Linked DNA regions of Homo sapiens: region 2 is linked to region 1. The links come from fine-mapping of genetic effects on gene expression. A gene starts in region 1. The other region holds a variant in brackets. All regions are shown on one strand. Distances are from middle to middle.

Evidence for each region. PIP is the estimated chance that this variant, and not a neighbour inherited with it, causes the effect.
Region 2: its variant is fine-mapped to the expression of TSPO in whole blood (INTERVAL, PIP above 0.99).

The regions. Positions count from the first base shown.
Region 1 is chr22:43,147,184-43,155,503 of GRCh38, forward strand. TSPO (translocator protein) reads left to right here and starts at 4,376. Exons shown (of 4, transcript NM_000714.6): 1 at 4,376-4,421. RefSeq lists enhancers at 709-918, 4,969-5,068 and a silencer at 4,128-4,347.
Region 2 is chr22:43,171,957-43,180,276 of GRCh38, forward strand. TTLL12 (tubulin tyrosine ligase like 12) reads right to left here. Exons shown (of 14, transcript NM_015140.4): 4 at 7,885-8,044; 5 at 7,663-7,796; 6 at 4,364-4,440; 7 at 2,543-2,659; 8 at 2,253-2,447; 9 at 1,759-1,870; 10 at 447-598. Among named protein-coding and RNA genes, the nearest start is that of TTLL12, 11 kb to the right of the region's middle. The variant CA/C (reference allele first, on the strand shown) is at 4,773.

The sequences.
Region 1 (8,320 bases):
CCACTGCACTCCAGCCTGGGCAATAGAGTGAGACTCTGTCTCAAAAAAAAAAAAAAAAAAAAAAAAAGAGAGAGAGAAAAAGGAAGTTAGAAAAACAGCCCTAGAGGCCCTACATTCTGAGTAATAGGAGTTCCAGAAAGGAAGTGATTGCTGCACAACATAAATTTGAAAAGAAAGAGAAGTGAGAAAATAGAGGGAAGGAAATCAAAGAAATAATCCAACTTCTGAAAAGTAAAGAATGAGCTTCCAGCGGGAAAGTGCCTGTTGAGTGCAGGCACAGTGGAGGAAATGAAGCTGGGTGTGTTGGAGCTCGCCTGTAGTCCCAGGTACTCGGGAGGCTGAGGGAGAATTGCTTGAGCCCGGGAGGCAGAGGTTGCAGTGAGCCGAGATCGTACCACTGCACTCCAGCCTGGATTACAGAGTGAGATGGTCTCAAAAAAAAAAAAAAAAAAAAAAATTAGTCCCACATAGGGGAATATCAGTGTGAAACTGCAGAACTCTGGGGCCCAAAATCTTAAAAACTTTCCAGGAAGAACAAAATCGGTTACATATAAAGGATCCACAGCGTGGCCGGAGCAGGATTGCTTGAGCCCAGGAGTTGGAAACTTGTCTGAGCAACATAGCGCGACCCTGTGTCTACAAAAAAATAAAAACAAAACAAAAAACAACCAAAGACTTCCGAAACAGAATGGCTTTAGCCTGCTCAACCGCAGTGTGGCAGCTGGCCAACAGCATCTCTTCATGATTCTGAAGGACAACGATCTGCAGCTCAGCCAAGCATCAGCCATCTATGGGGTAGGATGCAAGAATTCAGCAATGTTACCTTCCGGGCAGTCTTTCTCAAGAACTCCTGGAGGATAGGCTCAACACAAGCAAGGGGGGACCAAGAAAGAGGAAGATGTGAAATCCAGGAAATAAGGACCCATGCAGGAGGGGGCGGAGGTGGTGAAGAAAGACCCGGGCATGGTGTGTGTACTGGACCTGTGCAGCCTGTCCAGCGGGGAGCAGCGTGACTTGAGATGTGTTGAGAGCTGGCATTACCAACATCCCTACTGCCATGCTGCTCATTTAGGTACAGAATGCCCCACAAGCTTGGCCCAGATTCTTTTTTTTTTTTTGAGACAGAGTCTCACTCTGTTGCCCAGGCTGGAGTGCAGTGGCATGATCTCGGCTCACTGCAACCTCCACCTCCCGGGTTCAAGCATTCTCCTGCCTCAGCCTCCCGAGTAGCTGGGATTACAGGTGCCCGCCACCACACCCTGCTATTTTTTTGTATTTTTAGTAGAGACGGGGTTTCACCGTGTTAGCCAGGATTGTCTTGATCTCCTGACCTCGTGATCCGCCCACCTCGGCCTCCCAAAGTGCTGAGATTACAGGCTTGAGCCATTGCACCTGACGCTGGCCCAGAATCTTGCCTGCACCTGACTGGTCCCTATCACAGGCTGAGGAAGCCCTGTTCTCGCCCTGCTGCCTGGGTCTGCTGAGGACACATGGCTCACCTGACAGGCCTCACCTTGCTCCTGAGGTCTGAGCACCCTACTCCTCAGGGCACTGTGAGCTCAGAAGCAAGAGACAGAACAGCTCATGCCCCTGACCATTTCCTGCTGAATGCGCATGCCACAGCTGTGCTCAACGTCCTCACAGGGGAGCCCCACCCACAACCATGCCCTCTGCCTGCCCCAGAGGGGCCTCTTGTCAGTGCCCACAGAGGCCGGGCCCAGCCTGTACCCCAGGCGCTCAGCTGAGTTTATCTTCCCGGGAGTCTTCTGGCCTGGCCATGGTGCCTGTTCTGCCCCAGCTGGGGGTGTGCTGCCTCTCTGCACACATAGTACTCAGGGAAACACACCCGGGTGGGATTCATAAAACCCTAAAGGAAAGCAAGGGCGTGATCAACCCAAGTCAAAGTAAAGGTGATCTCTGGGGAGGGGAGGAATCGCTGGGGAGGTCACCAGGGCGCTCCTAGGACTCTCGTAATGTTCTGGTCATAACTGGGGAATGGGCACACCTGGTATTATTGTTGTAATGTGTACACGTGTGTGGTTTTTTTTTTTTTTTTTAAATTGAGTTTTGCTTTATCACCCAGGCTGGAGTGCAGAGGTGTGATCACGACTCACTGCAGCCTCCACCTCCCGGGTTAAAGTGATTCTCATGCTTCAGCCTCCCGAGTAGCTGGGATTAAAGGTGCCCGCCACAACGCCCAGCTAATTTTTGTATTTTTAGTAGAGATGGGGTTTCACCGTGTTGGCCAGGTTGGTCTCCAACTCCTGACCTGAAGTGATCTGCCTGCCTCGGCCTCCCGAAGTGCTAGGATTACAGGCGTGAGCCACTGCAACCAGCCACATGTGTGTCTTATTTTTATTTTATTTTATTTTTTGTTTTGTTTTTTTGAGAAAGAGTCTCACTGTGTCACCCAAGCTGGAGTGCAATGGCGTGATCTTGGCTCACTGAAACCTCCACCTCCCGGTTCAAGCGATTCTCCTGTGTCAGCCTCCTGAGTAGCTGGGATTACAGGCGCCTGCCACCATGCCCAGCTAATTTTTGTATTTTTAGTAGAGACTGGGTTTCACCATGTTGGTTAGGCTGGTGGCGAACTGCTGACCTCAGGTGATCCACCGGCCTCGGCCTCACAAAGTGCTGGGATTACAGGTGTGAGCCACCACGCCCGGCTAAGAAGGGATTTTTTTTTTTTTTTTTTGAGACGGAGTCTCGCTCTGTCACCAAGCTGGAGTGCAGTGGCACCGTCTCAGCTCACTGCAACCTCTGCCTCCTGGGTTCAAGAGATTCTCCTGCCTTAGCCTTCCAAGTAGCTGGGATTACAGGCACACACCACCATGCCCAGCTAATTTTTGTATTTTTAGTAGAGATGGGGTTTCACCATGTTGGCCAGGCTGGTCTCGAACTCCTGACCTAGTGATCCACCCACCTCGGCCTCCCAAAGTGCTGGGATTACAGGCATGAGCCACCGTGCCTGGCCAGAAGGAATTTTAAAAAAGAAAAAAAAAAAAAAAAACAAAGCTGCCAGGTGCGGTGGCTCACGCCTGTAATCCTAGCACTTTAGGAGGCCGAGGCAGTGGATCACTTCAGGTCAGGAGTTCGAGACTAGCCTGGCCAACATGGTGAAACCCCATCTCTACTAAAAATACAAAAATTAGCCGGGCATGGTGGCAGGCGCCTGTAATCCCAGCTACCGGGAGGCTGAGGGAGGAGAGAATCACTTGAACCCAGGAGGCAGAGGTTGCAGTGAGCCGAGATTGTGCCATTGTACTCTAGCCTAGGAGACAAGAGCGAAACTCCGTCTCAAAAAAAAAAAAAAAGAAACCCAGAAGAAAAAGATGAATGAAGAATGGAACCAAGCCTGGGTTATCCTTGTCTTCAGGCCAACACAGTAAAAAATAGATTTATGTATGTTTGTTTTTTAATAGAGGAAGAGGCTCACAAAGGCAAAAATGCCAGGTCCTAGGAAAGCCATACTGCAGCCTGGCTGGTCCCCAAGGAGGCTCCTGGCTTCTGTGTCTGGGTAGAAGTAGCCACAGTTCTCCTTGGACCCTGCAGGATCAGTTTGGGCCAACGTGGCTGGTTCAGGCTGATGGGGCGTTGCCAGGCTGAGTTGTCTGGAGGGAGCTGGGACAGCCTTGAACTGCAGCAAGACAGCCATAGTGCCAAGGGCCTGGGGCTGGACACACCCTGCATGGGAGTGGACCTGGGCAGCTGGAGGCCACCTCTGGGCTGTGATGATGGCAGCCTCCCCTCACTGAGCGCCGAGCATCTGAGGGGTGTCCTGCCTGCATCACCGCGTTGCGGCCTCATCAGTCCCACGACTTTGTGCCCATTTTACAGATGAGGAGATGGAGGCCCAGAGAGCCAGTCAGAAAGTGGCTGGGCCAGGACTAAGAGTGCAGCGCGCTGCCTCCGTGCCCTGCGTCAACAGCTCAAGGAACTGGGGTGCTCCGGAAATGGGGCCAAGGCTGCTGGGCAGCAGGACGCTCAGGGCCTTGGCCTCAGGAGAGGTAATTCCCCACTCGGAGATCGGTCTTGTTGCTGCATTTTATAGATGGGAAAAGTGAGGCTAGAAGAGACGACAAACGACACGCCGTTGGACACACGGCAACGTTTTAGATGTTGGGTCTGGCCGGGCGGCCGTCACCGGTCACCATGGGGAGGAGGAGGAGCCGAGAGACTTGCTCGCGGCCGGGGGGAGGCAGAAGCGCGTCCCGCGGGAGAGGTGGCTTTGAGGAGTGAGCTCCCGGTCCCGCGGGGACGCGAGTGGGCCCAGTGCCCGGGCTGCCAGGCGGGGCGGGGCGGGGCCGGGCGACTGAGAGGGGCGGGGCCTGGCGGCTGGGAGGGGCGGGGCGGATGCGGGGACAGCGGCCTGGCTAACTCCTGCCAGGCAGTGCCCTTCCCGGAGCGTGCCCTCGCCGCTGGTGAGTGAGGACGGGACGCGGAGGGGGCAGCGGGAAGTGGGGGCCCGCATGGCTGCGACTCTTGGCAGCGCCGCGGGACAGAGGGAAACTGAGGCCGGAGCCGCAGACTGGACACCCGAGGGGGCGACCCGGGGCAGCACTTGGGGCTCGGCTACCGGGTCAGGGGGCGGCGGGCAGCAGAGTCTGGGCCTCCGCGGCCGGGGTTCCAGCGCGGGCCGCCTCCGGCTGGGGGTTCGGGAGGGAAAACTTGGACAACCCTGCCACGCCCAGCCCTTGGCCGCGTGGCTTCTCCTGCAGGAAGCGCGGTCCCAGGAGTGGCCGACGCTCCCTCTCCTGCCCATTCCGCGGATGGGCAATCCCAGGCGGAACTCCCTTGAGGGTCTCAGAATATCTGGGAGACCTCGGGCTCTTGATCTCCGAGACACCCCGTTTCGTAGTGGAGAACAGTCCAGATCGGGGAAGTTTATTTTGCCCAAAGCCGGTTAGAGGCCCCCTGGCCCTCGATTCCCAGTGCGGGGCTCAGGTGCGTTGCAGCCTAGACGGGTCTTACTGTGAGCCGAGCAGCCTCTGGGACCTGTCTGCTTCCCCTACCCCTTGCAAAGAAGCCGGAGCCCAGGTAGGAGAAGCGGGGGCTTCCTGCTGTGAACGCGCTGCTGGCCAGGGCAGCTGCCAGAGGCCATGGCCTGGCGTGGGCCTGGAGCCCCTCTGGCCAGCCTGCCAGGGGCCAGGGCTACGGGATACCAGCAGCGTGCCCTGGGCTGGATGGCAGGAGAGACAGGACTTGAGGCTGTCCCAGAATGGGCTCAGGCAGGGCGAGGATATCAGGGGAGGTGGTGTACAGGAAGCAGCCGCCCAGCTTGCCTGGCACACAGCAAGCCCTGCCCATGAAGGCCTACTGCCAGAACAGTGGGCGAGGCCCGGCGTCTCTGTGGAGTCGGTGGGGCCCGGGACAGGGCAGCCTGAGGCAGGTTTCCACTGGCGGTGAAAGGGGCCGTGTGGCAAGGACAGGAGAGCCAGCCTCAGCCCAGCAGGGGAAGGCGGCCCCTGAGTCTCCACCTGGCTGCTGGCAGCCCCACAGGGAGGTTCGGCGAAACTGAGGCTTGCCAAAGAAGCCTTTGTCCAGAGTCACGCAGCTGGCGCGGTGGAGCCAGGGCCAGAACCCGTGCAGGCTGATCCCAGCCTGCCTTCTCCACTGTGCCCCGAGGACCACTTTCTTTCCTGGGAGTGTGTGTGTGCACATGTGCTGTGTCCTGTCGTCTGTACACACTTGTGCCTGGCGTGAGGCAGGATGTCTGGCTGGATCTACCAGAAAGTATTCACAGCGGGTTCTCCAGCTGGGGTGAGGGGCTTGGGCTCGCAGGGAGGGAGCCTACTTTTCACTTTAGCTTGCTTTCTTCCTTTCTTCCGTCCTTCCTTCCTCCCTCCCTCCCCTCCCCTTCCCACCCCTTCTTTCTCTTTCTTCTTTCTCTTTCTTTCTTTCTTTCCTTCCTTCCTTCTTTCCTTTCTCTTTCTCTTTTTTTCTTTCTTCCCCTTCCTTCCTTCCTTTCTTGTTTTTGTTTGTTTGTTTGAGACAGGGTCTCACTCTGGTATGCAGGCTGGAGTGCAGTGATGCAATCATAGCTCACTGCAGTCTCCTGCAGAACTCCTGGGCTCAAGCGATCCTCCCACCTCAGCCTCCCAAAGTGCTGGGATTACAGGCATGAGCCACTGTTCCTGGCTTATTTGTGTTTTCTTTTTTTTTTTTTTTTTTTTTTTTTTGAGACGGAGTCTCGCTCTGTCGCCCAGGCCGGACTGCGGACTGCAGTGGCGCAATCTCGGCTCACTGCAAGCTCCGCTTCCCGGGTTCACGCCATTCTCCTGCCTCAGCCTCCCGAGTAGCTGGGACTACAGGCGCCTGCCACCGCGCCCGGCTAATTTTTTGTATTTTTAGTAGAGACGGGGTTTCACCTTGTTAGCCAGGATGGTCTCGATCTCCTGACCTCATGATCCACCCGCCTCGGCCTCCCAAAGTGCTGGGATTACAGGCGTGAGCCACCGCGCCCGGCTTATTTGTGTTTTCTTTACTTTTGATGGTGCAAACAATGCTTGGATGTGCTCTCTGTTTAAAACGGTAGTCTTTTTTATTTTTTTTTTTAACCACTAGACCACTAGGGAAGTCATTCTTAATTTCTTATTTTTATTTATATATATATTTTTTGAGACGGTGTCTCGCTCCATTGCCCAGGCTGGAGTGCAGTGGCTCCAGCTGGGCTCACTGCAACCTCCGCCTCCAGAGTTGAAGTGATTCTCCTGCCTCAGCCTGGCTAATTTTTATATTTTTAGTAGAGATGGGTTTCACCATGTCGGCCAGGCTGTTTCTTTATTTTTTACTAAAAAAAAGTTTAACCCCCGAACCTCGAAGGAAAGGGAAGTAGTCTTTCTTAACAGAACCAATTCCCCCTGGATACCCCACCCTCACCCTACCCTCTCCCAGGCCACTCGATGGCCAGGTTCGCTGTGGATTTTTCCAGACCTGTGGGCTGTTTCACTGGTTACTTTTGTAATGAAAAATGCACACAAAGGTTACGATGAGGACGATTAGCCATGAATCATTTTTAAAAAGCCTGAAAACAAGTCCCTGGGACAGTGCTGGCTTCGTTGGAGAGACAAGGCTCAGGGGAGTGGGTGCAGCTGGGGGTCGGGGTGGGGATCAGAGAAGGGACACATTCCTTATTGTGTTTCTGGGTCGCCTTCTTTTTTTTTGTTTGCTTTATTTATTTATTTATTTATTTTGAGACAGAGTCTTGCTCTGTTGCCCAGGCTGGAGTGCAGTGGCGTAATCTTGGCTCACTGCAACCTCCTCCTCTCGGGTTCAAGCAATTCTCTTGCCTTAGCCTTCTGAGTAGCTGGGATTACAGACGTGCGCCACCACACCAGGCTAGTTTTTTATTTTTAGTAGAGACGGGGTCTCACCATGTTGGCCAGGCTGGTCTCGAACTCCTGACCTGAGGTGATCTGCCTGCCTCAGCCTCCCAAAGTGCTGAGATTACAGGTGTGAGCCACCGTTCCTGGCCTTCTGGGTCACCTATAGGGAGGTCTCCAAGAACAGAAAGACACCCTGAAACCCACTGGCTCGACCACCACCTCATAGATGGGGACACAGAGGCTCAGGAGATGAGATACCTTGGGGCAGCGATGGGTCTGGGGTCTTCGGGCCAGGAGTGAAGCCTCACAAGACCTGGAGACCCTGGGTCCCACCCTCAGTGGGGAAGGGCTCAGATTCTGCAGGGCCCGATGCTCTGTGGGGGCTGGGATGTTGCCGCGGCAGGTGGAGAGAGTGATGCTACTGGCCCTGAGAGAACCTTCTGGCACCGTTCAGAGGTGGGGTGGAGTGGCCTGCGGGTCCAATCCTGGCGCCGCAGGCTCTATGAGCCCTGTTTCAGATGAGGAAGGAGGCTGAGACGGGCGGTGACACAACTCCTGGCAAGTGGTCACGCGGCCCAGAGCAGCCCGGCAGACACCCAGCTCAAAGGGAGGGGTGGGGTGGGTTTTGGAGTCACTCGGACCTAGAAAGTTCTGTGACTTCTCATGTCTCAGTTTCCTCATCTGGAAAATGGGACCAGTCACGAGTCCACCATGGAGGCCGAGTGGGCCGTGTGGCTCAGGGAGAAGCAGCTGGTCCCCTGTGGCTGCTGTGGGGACTGAACAAGGCGGTGACCGTCGGGATGAGCACGGACTCCACCACGCAGGCCCCTGCCTACCAGAGGCCTGTGCACAACCAGAGCTGAGCAAGGCTTGGAACCTTCTCCTGCCTCTACGTCCTGCGCCCTCTACCCTGCCCCGATCTTGCCCCTGTTTTGGGGGCGCTGCTCCGTGCAGGGCATTTTCACCTGTGGAGTGTCCAGGGGCTCTCGTGGCTG
Region 2 (8,320 bases), 25 kb after region 1:
GGAGGTGCCACCCACTCAGCCTTCCCAACTAGGGGTTCAGGGCTCAGGGCAGGACCACCTGCTGCTCAGGCGGGAGCCTGTTCCCTTGTCTGTGTGGCTGGGGGAGCCCCACAGCCCCACTGAGCTGGGGTGGAGGTGAGTGAGGTGCTAGCTGTGAAGCCTCTGCAGGTCCATAAAAATGGCACCTGGTTCTCATGTTGGTGCCCATTTTACAAAGAATGTTCACATCCATTACTGTGGGCAACACCAGAACTCTGAGGTGGGCAGGGCAAGTCACCGCCAATTAACACCAAGGGAGATGGGCTCCAAGGGCCGCTAGCTGGGTGAGTGATGGAGGGTGCCTTCCAACAACATTTTCTGATTCCAAAAAGGGCCCATCACCCACCCGCTACCTCCACCCGGTCACCCAGCTCCCCGACCCTGGACCCAGCCGGCCCTCCACTTACCGGTTGGAGAACCGCAGCCAGAACACATCATACACGAACAACCGTAGGGGCCTCACTGACCGCAGCAGCACGATGTAGCGGATGTCGAACTTGACCTTTCCCACGTCTTCTCGAAGGAACAACACGGGACTTTCGATGTACTTGGACACAACCTGGAGGACACAGGTGCAAGCTCGCTGGTGGCCAGGACAGAGCCCCCTGGGGCTCCCGAGCACACAAAGCCACGCAGGGGGCACAGACATGGCTGCACTTTACTCCTCCTTCTGCCTTTTCAAACCTGCCTAAGTTGCTGCAAAGTCTTTTTTTTTTTTTTGAGACAGAGTTTTGTTCTGTTGCCCAAGCTGGAGTGCGGTGGCACAATGTTGGCTCACTGCAACCTCTGCCTCCCGGGTTCAAGCGATTCTCCTGCCTCAGCCTCCTGAGTAGCTGGGATTACAGGTGCCCGCCACCACCCCCAGCTAATTTCTGTATTTTTAGTAGAGAAGGGGTTTCTCCATGTTGGCCAGGCTGGTTTCGAACTCTTGACCTCAGGTGATCCGCCCACCTTGGCCTCCCAAAGTGCTGGGATTACAGGTGTGAGCCACCGCACCCTGAAGCAAAGTCTTTATATCCATTTTTAATTGAAATGAAATATAAATTCTCACCCATAATTCCATCCACCCCCATCCCATGGCCTGAAGTCTCCACGACAATCGTCCTCATGATGCATTTCCCGCCAGCCTCTGACTATGTACACAGTCCAGGCAGATCCTGTGTCCTGCAATCCCAATACTGCTTCTGGATGTCCCCTCACTATGAATCTTTACCACGGCTCTGAGAGGCTCCTTGTCCAGGCTCAGCCACCTCACCCTGCTGGGCAGCCATACCTGGCACACTATGTGGTAGGAACTTTGCGATTAGACGCACCCAGGACAGTTCTTTTTTTAAAGACTGGGTCTTGCTCTGTCGCCCAGGGCGGAGTGCAGTGACGCGATCACAGCTCACTGCAGCCTCAACCTCCCGGGCTCAAGTGATCCTCCTGCCTTAGCCTCCTGAGAAGCTGGGACTACAGGTGTGTGCCAACATGCCCAGATAATTTTTAAAGTTTTTTCCCTTGTAGAAACGAGGTCTCCCTATGTTGCTCAGGTTGGTTCCAAACTTCTGGGCTCAAGTGATCCTCCTCCACTTCCCAGAGTGCTGAGATTACAGGTGTAAGCCACCCTGCCCAGCCTGGACCTGTCCATAAGGACCATGATGCTCGGTCCCCTTAGCCCCACCTCTCACTGTCCAGCCAGGGCCCTGAGCCCTGGGGCTCCTGGTCTGCGGGGCCCACCTTGGGGGTGCTCTCTCGGTGCCGGATGATGCTGTGCAGGCTCTTGGTGACGTGGGTGTCCAGGCTGCGCGCCAGGTTCCAGGGCTTGCAGATCCAGTGGTTGTCCTCGCCCCTGGGGAGCAGAAGGGCTGTCTGGGGGGCGCCTGGGGCCTGTGTTCCCAGATGGTGCCACCCCAGGACCCAGAGGCAGAAGAGGGCAGCCCACTTCTCCTTGGGAGCTGAGGGGGCACCAGAGAGCTGTCAGAGGCAGGGGCATGGGAAACAAGGAGGGGTTTGCCAGAGGCCAGGCAGCTGCGCTGCGGTGGAGAGGACAGCCCCAGCAAAAACCTGGAGAGGTCCTGCGGTCCGTGAAGACGGCCGTGACGTTCGGGGCCCACAGCTCGGCTCCTGCACCACGGTTTCCACAGTGGGTGCTCATGGAGGAGCAGGCGGACACAGACGCTGGGCCGGGGAAAAGGGCCATGGAGCACACCGATGCCGTGTCTGGGACTTACCACCTTTCCCGCTGCTGGAAGTAGCTGACAAACTGGGGCAGCTCAGTGCGCAGGTTGAAGGTTCGGGGCAGCCAGGGTGGGCCCTCGGGGCCACCTGCCCGGCGCGCGATGGAGGCCAGGCAGTCCTTGACAGTCAGCAGGTTCTCGCAGGGGAACTGGTTCAGCAGCACGCCTGGCCTCTCCTGGCTGAGTTTCCTGCAGGGCGGAGGCAGGTGCGCCAGCTCAAGGGGAGGCCGGCAGTGCCTAGAAGCCCTGACTGGGAGGGCCCCTGCGGCCAGAGGTGCCCTCACCTGTAGTCCTTGAAGTGTGAGAAGTTGAAGAGGATGTCGGCGTCCGCCTCACTCTGGGTGAGGGTGAAGCGCGGGTGGGTGAGGCTGCTGGCCACCTGCTGCACGTCCGTGTAGACCCTGTGGGGAGAGCCCGAGCTGGGTGATCCCGGCTCCCAAGTGTCCAAGCGGGACTCCAGCACTAGCCCTGGCTCAGGGACTCCCTTCCCTGTTTTGAAGCTAATGAGGCAGAGGCAAGTCCTGGGTTCGAGTCATGATGCTGGACAGCCCGGGTTCAGACCCCGCTCCCTCCAATCTGCTGAGGGAGGGGCGCAACCTGTACCCTTGTGACCCCTGGTTCCCCATCCGCAGGACTGGACCACACCGTCCACCTCACATTTGTCATTAAAATTAAATGGCATAATTTGGGTGTTTATTATGTGCTAGTTCTTTCCTCTCACATGCAAAACAAGAGGATGAGGCTGGGGCCACCAATCTCAGACAGGCACACCAAGGGCCTCCGTGAGGCCTCTGCCCCAGAGGAGGTGGAGGGACCTTAGGCCCTGGCCAGGTCACCACAAGACTCACGTCTCAGCAAGAGCCCCTGGGCTGCCCAGCTGGGGCAGAGGCCAGCAGGGAGGAAAGCCCTCAGGCCCGGTGGAGGGGGCAGAGTGGAGCAGCCTGCCTGTTCTTGGCTAGACCAGGTTTGGGCAGCCAAGGGGAGTGTCTGGGAGCCTCAGGGAGGGGCTCCTGTGAAGGCTGAGGTGGAATCTGCTCTGCATCTCTGGGTCCTCACCTGTGCCTGCTTCTGCAAGGTGTCCCGCCTGGACCTGCCGGCCTGGCTTTCCTTAACTCAACAGCCACACCTGCAGCCTCCTGGGAGGGGCCCCTACTGGCAGCCCGGGTGCCTGTTGTGGGTGCCCAGCATGTTCCTGGCCAGCAAAGGCTCCCTGCTGTGGGGAGGGCTGGCATGCACAGGCCTGGCTAGTGTCGGTTTCCAGGACTGGATGAGCATCGTATCCAGGTAAGCGGAGCAGCCCCATGACATGCAAGGTTGGTAACAGGACCCCTTGGTGCCCAGAGGACAGGGGTGGGATGGGGACCAGTGGTGGCCAACGCTTCTGCCCAGGGGGCCCTTTACCCACTCACTGCCAGCATTTCCATGGCCTATTCCTATTTTTAACTTTCAAAGATGAATTTATTTTATTTTTTTTTAAGGAGTCTTGCTCTGTAGCCCAGGCTGGAGTGCAGTGGCCCGATCTCAGTTCACTGCAGGCTCTGCCTCCCAGGTTTCAAGTGATTCTTCTTCCTCCTTGGCCTCCCGAGTAGCTGTGATTACAGGCGCCAGCCACCATGCCCTACTAATTTTTTTTTTTTTTTTTTTTGTATTTTTAGTAGAGACGGGCTTTCACCATGCTGGCCAGGCTGGTGTTGAACTCCCGATCTCAGGCGATCTGCCTGGTTTGGCCTCCCAAAGTGCTGGGATTACAGGCATGAACCACTATGCCTGGCCTCATAGGTGAGGTGTGAAACCTGGGAGGTGGAGGTTGCAGTGAGCTTAGATCGTGCCACTGCACTCCAGCCTGGGTGACAGAGACAGACTCTGTCTCAAAAAAAAAAAAATCTCCAGAAAGCCCTGCTCGCTCTCTCACTTTCTGCGGCATTTTCTCTGGGGTCCCAAGAACTCCACTCCCTGCACGTGTCACTGCTGTGCCCAGACAGGATGCGGCTGACTTGCTGCGTGCCACGTGCCAAGCACTGTTCTGGGGCTGTGGGAACCACGAAGCATGGGAGGCGGGGACTGCGGACAAGTCCCAGCCCAAGCAGTGGGGGGGGGCTACGCACTTGAAGATGTGGCCGTGGGGGTGCACCACGGGGTTGATGTCAAGTGGCAGCTTCTCCTTGTTTTCCTCCAGAATGGCCTAAAAGGAAACACACCGGAAGTAGAGATGAGGTCAAGGAAGGGAGGGAAAGGCCGGCCGTGGTGGCTCATGTCCATAATCCCAGCACTTTGAGAGGGTGAGGCAGGTGGATCACGTGATGTCAGGAGCTCGAGACCAGCCTGGCCAACATGGCAAAATCCCCACTCTACTAAGAATATAAAAATTAGCCAGGCATGGTGGCGCGTGCCTGTAATTCCAGCTACTCGGGAGGCTGAGGCAGGAGAATCGCTTGAACCCGGGAGGCGGAGGTTGTAGTGAGCCGAGATTGCGCCACTGCACTCCAGCCTGGGAGAGAGTGTGAGACTACATCT[CA/C]AAAAAAAAAAAAAAAAAAAAAAAGGAAAAGAAGGAGGGGACACAAGCCTCACCACCTGGCATCAGGTTCTATGGCCTCAAGGGGCGCATGGCTGCTCCTCCCTCCCAACACCCCAAAGCCTCTAACCACCCCCCTCACCCCAGGATTCTGGGGCTCCAGGCCCCTCGGATGCCGAACAGTCCTAGTTTGGTGTCAAAAGAACAAGGTAAACATTGTTGCACATCTTCTCGGTGCTACCTCAAAATCGCAGGGGGCGAGAAGGTGCCAAACCCCTCCTGAGAGGAGCCGCTTTGTCCTAGGAGCCACGAGGGCTGTCGGGAGCTTCTGCAGTGTGATGATTTAAAACATGCCCACGTGGCTGCACATGGTGGCTCAAGCCAGTAATCCCTGCACTTTGGGAAGCTGAGGTGGAGGAGTACCTGAGCCCAGGTGTGTAGGACCAGCCTGGGCAACATAGTGAGACCCCGTCTCTACAGAAAAGTTGAATAATTAGCGGGGCTTGGTAGCAGTTGCCTGGAATCCCAGCTACTCGGGAGGCTGAGGCAGGAGGATTGCCTGAGCCCAGGAATTGGAAATGGCAGTTAGCTAGGATCATGCCACTGTACTCTAGCCTGGACAAAAGCAAGACCCTATCTTTTTTAAAAAATTAAAAAAAAAAAAAGATTAAAACATGCCTACAAACTCTTTGACACTATCTTCCAAAGGCAGAGCCGCATCCATCTCTGAGGGTGGGATGGGCCTAATGAGTTGCTTCTAATGAGCAGGAAAAAGGTGGAAGGGACAGGGTTGCTTCTGCAACAAGGCCATGAAGCCTGAGGCTTCCTCTCTGCTCTCTCCCTCGGATCACTTGCTCTGGGAGAAATCAGGTGCCACATCCTGAGGACACCTGAGCACTCTTATGGAGAGGCCCACAAGGCAGGGAGCCCAGGCCTGCTGCCAACAGTCAGCACCAACACAGCAGGCATGCACATATGCCATGCAGAAGCGGGTCCACAGCCCGACGGGCGGCCTGTGTACCTCAAGGGAGACTTGAGGCCAGAGGCACCCCGTTGAGCCACTCCTGAACTCCTGTCCCACAGAAATCGTGTGAGATAATAAATGTTTACTGTTTTAAGGTGCTAAGTTTTGGAGTTACTTGTTACCCAGCCATAGCTAATCAACATAGGCAACCCTGGGCCCAGAGCACAGACCTGATTGTAAAGGGTCAAATGGGAAAAAACAAGGATGCGTGGCCTTGTATCTCCTCCTCTTCCTGGTCAGCCCAGAGCTTCCCAAGGAAAAACACAAACTTTAGTTCATGTTCCATTAACAAACAAACCCGAGACCAGGAAGTGTTTGTCCCTCCAGTTGCATCCACGAAGGCATTCACTTTTTCAGACAAACGTGTACTAAGCACCTTCCTGGTGCAGGGGCTCTGGGAGGCTTGTAAGCACCCTTTGAACCAACAAGACTGAGCCCCTTGTTTTTGGCATGGTTGGTTCAATCACCACTGACTTAGACCGAAAGTGAAAGGAGGCCCCCCCACCCACAGCCCACCCCTGCAATCAGCAGCGCCCACACAAACACGCCACCACTCCACACACGCCCGCTCTATTTTTTTTTTTTTTTTGAGACGGAGTCTCGCTCTGTTTCTCAGGCTGGAGTGCAGTGGCGCGATCTCGGCTCACTGCAAGCTCCGCCTCCTGGGTTCACACCATTCTCCTGCCTCAGCCTCCCGAGTAGCTGGGACTACAGGTGCCCGCCACCACGCCCAGCTAATTTTTTATATTTTTAGTAGAGACGGGGTTTCACCGTGTTGGCCAGGATGGTCTCGATCTCCTGATCTTGTGATCCGCCCGCCTCAGCCTCCCAAAGTGCTGGGATTACAGGCATGAGCCCCCACGCCCAGCCTCCACGCGCCCACTCTCACATGGGTCAACTCGTCTAACCCTTCCCGAAACCCTCCGAGGCACTTAGTGAGCGCCTGGTGTGCAAAAAGGATGACTTCAGTCGCCGTGGGGGCAAGCCTGCAGCCTCAGCTGGACTCCAGCTCTTCCCCCTGCTGTGTGACCCCTGGCAAATGACTTAACCTCTCTGTGTCTCAATGTCCTCATCCTCAGTAAAATGAAGATAAAAACAGAACTGTAAAATTGTAAGGAACTGAGTGGCACACGCCCACAAAGTACTAAGCACAGGCTCCCTTGTAGGCTGGTTCCAGCCTACGGAAGCAGCAGCAGATGGGAGAGGAGGGGAAGGAGGAGAGATGGGTCAGGGTAGGAACCTCCTACCCAGCCCTGACTGGTTCTGGAGGTGGCTACGCTCCCACAGGCTCCTCTTCCTCCCCCGGCACTGGGGCCTCGACAACTCCGACTCCCTAACCCGCCAGCCTCCTTGTATGGGGCCTGGATGAGCTCTTACCTCCAGCCAGGCACTACCGAGTGGGCCAGCTGGGTCCCTCGGGGCCCTGACCAAGACTGAAAGCACCTTTGTTATCAATAACAGTGACCATGATGGTAACTCGCAGGCCTGCAGAGGGAGGGAGGCACGCGATGTGTGAACACAGGGTGTTTCCATGCCTCGGTGAGATGAGGACAGGGGGCTGAGTGGGGCTCATGGCCAAGACCAACTGCACAGCCCCCTCCTTCCCAAGGGAGCAGCGTGGACCCCCTGAGGACGGATGCCAGCACCAGGCACCCTGGGATCTGGAGCCCCCACCGTGCAGCCACAGGCAGCTTGTGTTCACTCTCTGAGCCCCTCGTCTCTCAGAGGCTCCCAAAACTCTATGCCTCCCACGGTAACTGGCTCAGGGCCTGGCACCCGGCTGGGGTTTGATAACATTTGGTGTGTGCACAGAGAACATTCTGGAAGCTACCAAGCAGACAGGCCTGGTGGGTGGAGGAGGGCTGCACCTGGTAGTGCTCGGCGGGCGGCTCGGGTGTGCAAGAGCTGAGGTCCAGCATGTCGGTGGGGGCCCAGGGCAGCAGCATGCACTTCCGGATCAGGGGGTCCGTCTCTCCGTAGGCAAAGTCTCGGGTCACCTCCTCTGTGCCAAGACATGAGTGCCCATCAGAGGGGGTGACGGGACACTGGGCTGAGGCCCCTCCTCCAGGGCGGGCAGGTGCTGGACTTACCGCCAGTGTCCAGGTCCCTCAGGGGCCACAGCAGCGTGTAGGCCACCTGCTGCGGCATGTAGAAGAAGGGTGCCGTGGCGAAGCTGGGCACGTCCGCGTGCTGGATCCGCGAACCGAACTCGTCCATGATATACCACACCGGCATCTTCTCCTCAGCTGTCTGCAGACAGAGCACATATGGCACCTCTCGCTCACCCATCCACCCACCGGAACTCCCTTCCGGAACCCAGACATCGACCACCAGCCCACAGCCATTTCTCTGATCTTGGAGGCCCTCTCACATGTACCCCAGGCCCTTTAGCTAAGCTAGGGGCTCCGGGACAGCAGCCCTGCCTTTGCAGACCAGGACACAGGCCTGGGTAACACAGCGTGAACACTCGTGGTAAAAGGGCGTTTGGTAACAAGGCACTCAGCCCAGCACCCGTAGGGGTGTATA